2 linked regions of the Homo sapiens genome follow. The protein of the gene in region 2 interacts with the protein of the main gene of each other region in a biochemical or structural test. Each region holds a gene or a part of one and is shown on either strand. Other genes may lie near its edges.

Evidence for each region. Proteins that work in one complex are often made in the same cells at the same time.
Region 1: the proteins of TANC1 (region 2) and LIMK2 interact in a test that uses a peptide from one of them, tested with the Homo sapiens proteins (one large-scale study listed by IntAct).

Annotation. Positions count from the first base shown.
Region 1 is NC_000022.11:31,259,834-31,265,137, reverse strand, and holds part of LIMK2 (LIM domain kinase 2), read right to left. Parts: intron 5,250-5,304; coding exon 5,061-5,249; intron 3,005-5,060; coding exon 2,899-3,004; intron 2,544-2,898; coding exon 2,347-2,543; intron 1-2,346. UniProt on the Homo sapiens protein: Serine/threonine-protein kinase that plays an essential role in the regulation of actin filament dynamics. Acts downstream of several Rho family GTPase signal transduction pathways.
Region 2 is NC_000002.12:159,174,001-159,179,304, reverse strand, and holds part of TANC1 (protein TANC1), read right to left. Parts: intron 4,353-5,304; coding exon 4,121-4,352; intron 2,954-4,120; coding exon 2,787-2,953; intron 750-2,786; coding exon 142-749; intron 1-141. UniProt on the Homo sapiens protein: May be a scaffold component in the postsynaptic density.

The DNA of each region.
Region 1 (5,304 bases), on a different chromosome or scaffold from region 2:
ACTGCAACCTCTGCCTCCCAGGTTCAAGAGATTCTCCTGCCTCAGCCTCCCAAGTAGCTGGGATTACAGGCGTGTGCCACCACAACCGAATAATTTTTGTATTTTTTTAGTAGAGATGGGGTTTCACCATGTTGGCTAGGTTGGTCTCGAACTCCTGATCTCGCGATCCATCTGTCTCGGCCTCCCTAAGTGCTGGGATTACAGGCGTGAGCCACCACACCCGGCCCTAATTTTTGTATTTTTAGTAGAGATGGGGTTTCACCATATTGGCCAGGCTAGTCTCAAACTCCTGACCTTGTGATTCGCCCACCTCGGCCTCCCAAAGTGCTGGGATTATAGGCGTGAGCCACTGCGCCCAGCCTAATTATTGTATTTTTAGTAGAGATAGGGTTTCACCATGTTGGCCAGGCTGGTCTCAAACTCCTGACCTCAAGTGATTTGCCCGCCTCGGCCTCCCAATGTGCTGGGATTACAGGCGTGAGCCACCGTGCCTGGCCAGCAAATGGGATTTTGGATGATATTTTGCACATCTTTGTACCTGTCCATGTTTCCTGAATTTTAAGATGATAAACACGTATGATTTTTACAGCAATAAAGTCACTATGTTTACATTTTCAAAAGCGGTCGATAATAGTCATGGTCAATGACTGTTATTTTCACTTACTGAAGAAGGAACAAGAAGGTTGAAGTCCACAGCACTGCAGGTGAACAGCCCTGCGAACTTTCTCTCTGGGGTATGCTCCTGCTTTACTTGGGCTACCCAGAGAGGACTGACGCTGGATGGCTCTTGGCTTGTCCCGACCTACAGGTTTACTTACCCTTGTCCTTTTGCTCTGCCTCCTGCTGACCATGCCCACCAGAGCACACAAGGCTAGCTGCCCCCCTCCTCTGCATGGTGGCTCTACAGATACCTGGCCACTCCCAAATCTTCCCTTTTCCAGGCCATGGATTTCTAGCTCTTCCCTGCCCTCTGTTGCCCTGCCTCCCACTAATTTCATCATACTGACCAAGGCCAAGAGGCAATGGGAGTGAGGGCAGCACTTTAATGAGAGGGCACTGTTTCCAACACATGCCAGCTGAGAGGGCTCTAACTTACTCAGTTTGTTTGGTGAGGAGAGTGGATAAAAAAAAACAAACTTTTTTTTTTGGAGACAAGGTCTCACTCTGTTGCCCAAGCTGTAGTACAGTGGTGTGATCAAGGCTCACTGCAGTCTTGAACTCCTGGGCTCAGGCAATCCTCCTCCTCAGCCTCTTGAGTAGCTGGGATTACAGGCATGTGCCACCATGCCCAGTTAAGTTTTTTATTCTTTGTAGAGACAGGAATGTGGCCCAGGCTGCTCCTGAACTCCTGGCCTCAAGCAATCCTCCGGCCTTGGCCTCCCAAAGTGCTGGGATTACAGGTGTGAGCCACAGTGCCCTGCCCATCTAATTAAAAACAATTATTATTATTATTTTTTTTTTGTAGAGACAGTGTCTCACTATGTTGCTCAGGCTGGTCTCAAACTCCTGTGTTCAAGCCATCCTCCGACCTAGGCCTCCCAGAGTGTTGGGATTACAGGCATGAGCCACGGTGCCTGGCCAAGAACCTGATTCTTAGTGATACTAAGAATGTGTCACGTTTACTGAACACTGTCCCTATGGCAGCACTATACAACTTTATGTCCTTTTCCACATTTAATCCTTACATAATTGGTGAGACAGCCACCTTTATCTTACCATCTTATGTCACAGATGCAGAAACAGGCTCAGAGAGATGAAGTGATTTGTGAAGGGAGGAGCTCAGCCTGAAGCCCCAGTAGGGTATCAGTATTTCTGCCTGGGAGCCAGTGCTCTTGACTTCTTTTCTGTAAGTCTCCCTACTTGGGGCTTCCACTCAAGGCAACTTCTCCTTCCCCATGGACCTGGCAGAATCTGGGGTTTGGGGGTTGTTGGTCCCTCAAGTCTAAAAAAAACGTTCATTCATCTTTTGCTTTATTGTTTTCAAAGTCTTTCTACACAATTTATTCAATCCTATCTGTGCCCCTACTCCAGGCTCTGAGCTCCATGCTTTCTCCATAGGCCATGTTGCCCTTCAGGGTTTAGCATCACTGCCTCCTGTCCAGCTTAGGAGTTCAGTGGACAGAGACTGACTCTCAGGTTTCTAAGGAAACCTGGCAGACAGCTGGGTCCGCACAGGCTCTGGCTGTAAACTGTGATCCCCACAGGGGCAGCTGGGTCAGCACAATCCTCATAGTCTGTCCCTGGCCAGCTGGTTCCTTTCCTAACTCTGCAGGCTTCTGAAAGCCAGCTCAGCTTCATCCGAGAGACAGACATAGGACAGAACAGAGCCAGGGTGGGAGGTGGCACCTTAGGGAACGTCTCCTCAGTGTCCCCTCCAGATTCTCCTTGGTGTCCAGGGTGCTGAGGGCGTGGGGGTGTCCGGCATTCTGCATGTGAGGAGCGAGCCGGGCCTCCAGCCGCAGCTGGTCCAGGCGTTGGGAGACGGGGTCATGTTCAATCAACAGCTGAAGTGTCTGGCTCGTCTGGCTAATTGCATCCTCCACCTGTGGCCAAGAGCAGTATAAAGCTCCCACAGGCTGCCCCATCCCAGGCCACCCATGGCCAACCCAGATGACTCAGGCACAGTGTGGCCAGTGCTCAACTTGTCTAATGGTGGCCTTTAGCTGCCAGTGGCCTCACAGTGCCCTCTGCCTGGCATCCTGTCAGCTCTCCCGTCCATCAACCATCCCTGCTACCCTGGGAACCTGTTACGCTGAAATAGGTCACCAGTGGTCACAGGCTCAATGCTAAGACAAAGAGATGGGCTGGGGGTAGGAAAAGGTAAAGGCTACAGCCTGATTTCTCAGAGGATCTGTTCCATGTCCCACCCTCACAAGACAGATTAGACACACACTCTACCTCCTCCACTCGAAGTGTGCGGACGGGGGTCCCATTGATCTCCAGGATGCGGTCCCCAGGGTGGATGGCGTTTCGATTGTTGGGACTGATGTGCATCCGGTTGACCCTGGGCCAGACAAGAGTTGAGGCAGGGTAAAGATGTCCTAAAAACCTGCTTGACCAATTCTGCTTGTGCAGGGAAGGTTTACCAGGTCCCAGGCCACCAGTGGCCCCTAAGGGGCCCAGGATACCCACACAGAAAGGCAACACCTTTTCCAGGATGCCCCATCTCAGTGAAGGGAATTGCCACTCACCCTGTGGCCTAAGCCAGAAACTTGAACATCATCTTCCCAATCTGGAGTTCCCTCATCTCTCCTACTCCCATCTCTAAGAACTCTGCCTTCTTTCCATCATTGTAGTTATTCACATCTCTTACCTGGATCACGGTAATAGCTTCTATTTTTTTTTTAAACTTTGTTTTTAATTTTTATTTGAGATGGCATCTTACTCTGTCATCCAGGCTGGAGTGCAGTGGCATGATCTGGGCTCACTGCAACCTCCACCTCCCAGGCTCAAGCAATTCTCATGCCTCAGCCTCCTGAGTAACTGGGATTACAGGCGCGCACCACCATACCCAGCTAATTTTTTTGTACTTTTTGTAGAGATGGGGTTTTGCCATGTTGGCCAGGCTAATCCCAAACTCTTTTTTTTTTTTGAGATGGAGTCTCGCTCTGTCGCTCAGGCTGGAGTGCAGTGGCGTGATCTCTGCTCACAGCAAGCTCCGCCTCCTAGGTTCATGCCATTCTCCTGCCTCAGCCTCCCGAGTAGCTGGGACTACAGGCGTCCGCCACCATGCCCGGCTAATTTTTGTACTTTTAGTAGAGACGGGGTTTCATTGTGTTAGCCAGGATGGTCTTGATCTCCTGACCTTGTGATCCGCCCACCTCGGCCTCCCAAAGTGCTGGGATTACAGGCGTGAGCCACTGCGCCTGGCCTAATCCCAAACTCTTGACCTCAAGCAATCTGCCCACCTTGGCCTCCCAAAGTGCTGGCATTACAGGCGTGAGCCACTATGTCTACGTCTGGACTTTTCTTTTAATTAAGAAAAACAGAGACGGGGTCTTGCTATGTTGGCCAGGTTGGTCTTCAACTCCTGGCCTCAAGCAATCCTCCCACCTCAGCCTCCCAAAGTGCTGAGATTACAGGCATGAACCACCATGCCCAGCCTACAATAGCTTCCTAACTAGTCTCTATACCTTTAGGCTTTCCCCTCTCCAATCCAACCTCCATACCAGTGATCCTTCTAAAATGTTAACTTGGTCACAACACCTTGCTGCTTAAACTCTCAATGGATCTGCTGGATTTTCATAATCCAGGCCCTCTATACTTAACAGCCCCTTTTCTGGCCACACTCAACCTACATCAGACATGATTAAGACTCCTACTTTTGGAGAAATGCTTCTCCCTCTGCCCTGAACACAATTCCCTCTCCTCTTCATCTAATAAGGTTGTAGAACAGACCTTAGCTCCTCCTGACTTCCCAAACTCTAGTATCTTTCACCTGCTGTGCAAGCACTAGCCTAGTGTCCAACACATGGTAGATACACAATCAATATTTACATGGTAAGCGGCCAGAGGTACGACATTACTGGTATTAGATAGACACAGACTCTTTCTCCATCTGGTCTCTGGCCTGAATCTAGGATAGGGTCTTAACTTCTTTTGGGCCATGGACCACATTTTCTCCATTCATTCTCTCGACTGACAAAATAATAATCAATCAACTCCTACTATATGCCAGGTACTCTTCCAAGCCCTGGGCATGCAGCACTGAATAAGACAGCAAGTTTCTTCTGGAATTTACATTCTAGTGGAGGGGATAGAAGATAAACAACTAATACACATAATCAAGCCAGATGATTTCAAAGAGCAAACATGACCTGAAACCTGACACCTGAAAGGTGAGTGATTCTTGCCTTAAGTATCGGGTAGGAAGTAGCCTGGGCAGAGAGAACAGTAAGTGCCAAGGCCCAGGTACGGTTACAGCATAGTGGGGTCCAGGAGAAAGATATGAGATGAGAATAAAGGGAGTTCTGCATGAGACTTTGGAGGTCTAAGCCCTCTGAGGCCCATTTACAGACTCTGCTCAAGAACCCCTGCTGAAGGGTTCTCAAAATACTTACTCTTTCACTTGCACAGTGGTGGCGTAGTTGGAGCAGGCACTCTCCACGGACACGGAGAAGCCCCGCCTGCCTTCAGTGGTGGCCGGCATGGAGATGAGCGTGACAGAGTAGGGCAGCTGCTCCTGAACAGACTCTGTGGAGAGTCTCTCAAACATGGGTGCCAGCACCACCTCATTGTGGCACTTCCCACTGGGGAGAGGGCACAGGGGGGAATAAGATGCTAGAGTCCCACACAGAAGCCCCC
Region 2 (5,304 bases):
AAAATAATAAAACAAAGCAGTAACACTGAATTAGTCATTCTGGATTGCCCTTCCATTGAGACACGTGCATCACATTTAAATCCTTTCCCCAACTGCACACGAGATTCCCTGCAAAGAGCTGAAAGAAAGCGCCTGCCGTACCTGGGCTCACACAGGAAGGCCGTGTTTTCCCCGTCTGCTCTCCATACAAGCCACTCCCTGAAGGACGGGTGGCAGAACATGCGGGTTTTGTCTCGCCTCTTAATGAGGAAGCAGGAGAGGGCGTCCATCCTCTGCTGAAAGTCTTCCCATCCCTGCTCCCCCTGGATGTGGCCAGCATTAATAGCCTGAAAGATCTGCTCGTCTGTCATGGGGTGGAGGGATGCGAGGGCCACGTTGAGAATCGGAAGTGCCCTCTCAAAGGCGGACTGGGTCATGAACTTCATGTTGCACTGAAGCAAATAGAGCTCAGAGAGAGACACGGGCACCACCTTGTAGCTGGCACTCTTAATGACCAAGTGGCCCCTCTGGAAAAGGTCCAGGGTGAGCTTGAGGTACAGGTAGGAGCCGAGGCTCCGCAGCACCAGGTGGCTGCTCACTTTTCCAATGAGTGTGGCATCGGCCTTGCCATTCAGGGAGATGTTGCTGAGGATGTCCTGGCTGCTGTGCACCCTGTGCTGGACGTAGGCGTGCAGGTCACTGTGGATGTCTTTGTTGTCTGGGAAGTCATCTAAGGAAAGCTTGACAAATGGCAGCGCACTTATGATTTCCTGGGGGAGAAAACAAAAACCCACAGTGTCACTCTAAAGAGATTCCTTTTTTATTTTAACAGCATTTTAAACCAGATTCACTAGTTTTGTTTCAAGGAGGATTTTCATGGATTACAGGGACTCATTGTTTTGTATTAAAACGTGTAATAGGATAAGGTGAAGATAAAAAGCTTATGTGAAAGAAATCCTGATGGGAGATGGAATCAGTAAGTGCTATCCTGAGGCCCTCATCCAAGGACCCTGAGCCTAGCAAGCAGAGTAAGAGCCCTGTGCAGACAGCGGCAACGAGGCCAGGGCCAGTAAGGGCAGTGAGACTCTGCAGGTGACCTGATACCCATAATCCTTACACTGTGAAACTGCTTATATAACAAGGACAAACACCAACCAACACTGCACATCTAAGAACACGGCCAGACGCCAAGATAAAAGACATCCTTCTTTATGCAGCAAACACTGGGGCTGTGTAACCCAATCAGGAAATCTGAGTCTGCCCCTGGGCTGTGTCTCAACGACAGCGCATCTTAACAAAGCTGCCTACTTTGGTATAGCACGTTATTTTATGAATTGCTTTTTTAAAGTAAACTTTTAAATTGAAGTCTAACAATGAACATATGATTTGTGTACAAATGACAATTGCACAGTGTCACTAATTTTCACTAAGTCAAATATACCTATGTAACCAGCACCCAGAAACAAAACATCCTCAGCTCCCAGAAGCCTCATGTGCCCTTCCCATCTCTTCCCCATTCCAAAGATTAAGCACATCTGACACCTAAAAGCAAAGAAGAGTTTTGCCTTTTTAAAAAGACTTCCCACTATTGTTTCTGAAGTATTTAAATGCACGTGCTCATTTAATATAACAATGTAGATAAAGAGGGCAGAATACAATTATTCCCATTTTACATGGATGCTATCTGAAGCTCTGAAAACTTACACAGCTGGGAAGAAGAACGTAAGATTCCTGGTTCCTATGATCTACTGATGGACAAATTGTGCTTACTATGTAAAAAATGACTGAAAAATATACAAACTGAATGTCCAAAAAACACGCATCAAGTTCAACTGAGGTCTAATTTCAGTTTTTATAATGAAAAAATTCCAAATGCTGTTTTTAAATAAATATCATAAAAGGGCAAAAATCAAAACCTAATGTCTAAAAGTCTTCACTGAAAAAGGATAGGTATAGAAGGAGTCAATGGTTAAGACACAATTTCAGGGTTTAAGTGAGGAAGAAGATGGAGGAGAAAAAAAAAATCACCCTACCCCTCGCTGCAAATGTTACCTCATGCTTAAGTTTTGTGAAAAAATAGACCTCTGGGAATAGGCCTTAAAAATGTTTCACCTTCAGCCAGGCACAGTGGCTCATGCCTGTAATCCCAGCACTTTGGGAGGCCAAGGTGGGTGGATCACCTGAGGTCAGGAGTTGGAGACCAGCCTGGCCAACATGGTGAAAATCCGTCTCTACTAAAAATACAAAAATTAGCTGGGCATGGTGGCAGATGCCTGTAATCCCAGCTACTCCGGAGGCCAAGGCAGGAGAATCACTGGAACCAGGGAGGCGGAGGCTGCATTGAGCCGAGATCATGCCACTGCACTCCATCCTGGGTGACAGAGCGAGACTCTATCTCAAAAAAAAAAAAAAAAAAAATCTTTCACCTTCATTTTTCCCTTCAAAAAAACACAAAGCCCCACAGTAAACCCTTGCAAATAACTACCAGCAGGAGTAGCTTTAAACTCTGGCAGGCCTCTTGGCCCCACACACTCCATGACGGTAACCAGGGCTAGATGCCACCATTTGAAAAGTGAACGTGCAATTCGATGCCAACAGGAAACTTACCTGACATCTTGATAAATATACCTGGGGCTAAAAAGGTCAGAGTTTCACCCAAGTCTGGCTCTCTGGACTAGTTTTTCAAATTCTTAACATAGTTTCCAATTCAAGCAGCTGAATGGTTTACAACAGTTTTACGTTATTAACATTTATCACTGTAAAATTGGAATGGGGACTTGGAGAAAGATTTGAGAATTCTTTGTTACCTGAAAATTTGCTCTTACAGTCACAATCAACTTCAACCAGGCAGGAAATTTAGAAATAATTTTGGTAATAAATGAAGAAAGCGTATCTCCATAATCAGGTTTATGAAACTCAGCTTCATTTAAGCCATCTATCAAAATAATGTATTCTTCTTCAGGAATTTTCTGCTCTACAGGATAAAATAATTTTTTCAAATTAAGAAATTATACATTTCTCTAAGACAGCAACACCCAGTGTATTTTAGTGCCCAGTTTAGTGTTAGAAACTAAAAAGGTTTACATATGGCACAAGAAACAGTTTTCACAGAAGCATATTTTCTATTAAATTTATAATGAAAACTGGAGCACAGAGCCAAAAGAAAACCAATTCTCACAAAACAAACATATTGCATGACACATGTTAGCAGAATCTCACTCGTGTATATAACACAGTTAGCTCTTCATAAACCACTGTCATTGGGGTGGGCTACACAAAGATAATGAACACATACAGAGGCCCAATCCGGAAAGGTCACTAGGTCCCCCCATGAGAGCTCCCCAGTGGATTCCAGGGAAGGGAAACTGACCCCCTCGCTGCCCCCAGCCCAGGGCAAACTGCCCTGGCCAAGCCATACAACCAACACAGCGTGAGAGCTCCACGCTACCGACTCCTCCAACAGGGCTCTTCTCTGCGAGCCTGAATCTGGTTTTCTATTTATTAGTGCTGATTTTCTGCCCAGGCAATAGAGAAGAAATGATGACATATCTGTTTTCTATCCCTCTAGCACCTTCCAGCAGAGGTGCCATGTGGGCAAGTAAACAAGCTCAAAAGGTGAGGAGTCCAGGGCAGAGAGGATGGGAAACTGAAGGGCCCATCAGGTCACTGATGTCCATTACCTTGTCGGGGACAAACAATTAAAATGGAAACCTTTAGAAGTCACTTTAAGGTTTCAATTCAACTGAGCAGAGGCCCTGACAAATATATATGCTGGAAAATTCCTCCAAATAATCCACTTATTCCCTCAGATACTTAGGAGTGCAAAATACGCAACAGTCTTCTGTGGTGCAAGTCACCTAAACAGCCCACACTTACAAGCTGACTACTTTGGAACTGCTCAGTCATCACATTCATTCTTATCAGGGTGCTTCTTTTAACACTATACCATAGGGGTGGTGTAGGAGCGACCTCATGGGGCTGGTTCTGAGAAAGAGGAGTGGATGGGCACGGAGGCTTCGACATCCTCTCCATGCTCCACCTCACTTCTACCCCAGCCCGGCTGACCACCTGCCTTCTGGGGACCACCTGTGTCTGCTGTACCACTACTGAGATGGGGCTGTGGGTAGCTGCTGCGAAGTACCATTTCTCAGGTTTGTGAGTGGCTCCAGCACTCCCCTCTTGAAAGCTGCCACCGGGTCCTGCACACAGGATCGGAGGCTCAGCATGCTCTGTAGTTGGGGCTCCTTTATCAGAAGGTCTCTGTAGGCGGCCAGCTGATGGGACCGGCAGAGCAAAGCTGCGATGCTGTGCACAAACTCGGGCACCAGGCAAGTGTACGTGTTGTCAGCCTGGCAGTAGTGGTAGGCCACCACCTAGGGGGAAGCAGAACCGTCAGCATCACCTCACCCTCTTCACACAGCTCCTTCTGCAATCTCAAACAGGAACACAACTCTGCCCATTCGCTGGTAACAAGATACATAGCATCTATTCCCCAAGACTGGGTCATTTGTTAGCATAATTGTTCCATTTATTCCTTCCTTCACTTATGTGGTTTGCAGACCTTTAACTGCATCCACAAAGCCATCTTGATTAGCATAAAAATCAGCACAAGTTATTTTTTTATTTTTGTATTTAATATAAACAAACAGCATTCATAAAACCTAAAACCTACCCTGGCTTACAGCAGCTCCAAGCCATCCTAATATTCTCAACATCAAAAAGTGCCATCTTCACTAGGTTTCTGTTCTCAAGAGCAGCGGCACCTCTTTAGGAAACCCTTTTGCTGATCCCAAAAGGCAGATGATAAACCCAGTGGCTGTGAGACCGGGGCTGTAGAGTCACAGCAGCTCCTTCTCCTGGTCAGGAGGGTCAAGATCTTGGCCCCTCCCCACACCCACACTGCATCAAGGGACACTGTGGAGGAGTTCTACAGGGGCACTGTCTGAAGAATGAAACCCGAAATCACCAAATCTCTGCCCATCGTGTGGAGAGATAAGTTGGAGTTGAGAGGGAGCTGCCCAGGTACTGAGAGGAAAAGGAATGGTCCCTGTTCCAAGGGACCTGCAGTGTCAGCAGGCTGTTTGTGAGAGGGACCCCACGAAAGGGCCAGACGCTGAAGTGTTGGGAATGGGAGGCGTGCTATAGATAGAAGAAAAATCCAATACTTTTCCAAAGGAGGATGATAGGAGAAACACAAGTAGAAGGTAAGGAAGGAAAAGAAGAGCAAAACACTCGTGCCAAGAGCTACCTGTTTTTTGGGAGTATCTGCCTTGCTGCTGTCCCACTGGGTGCGGCAAGCGCCTGCAGGAAGTAGGACAAGAACCA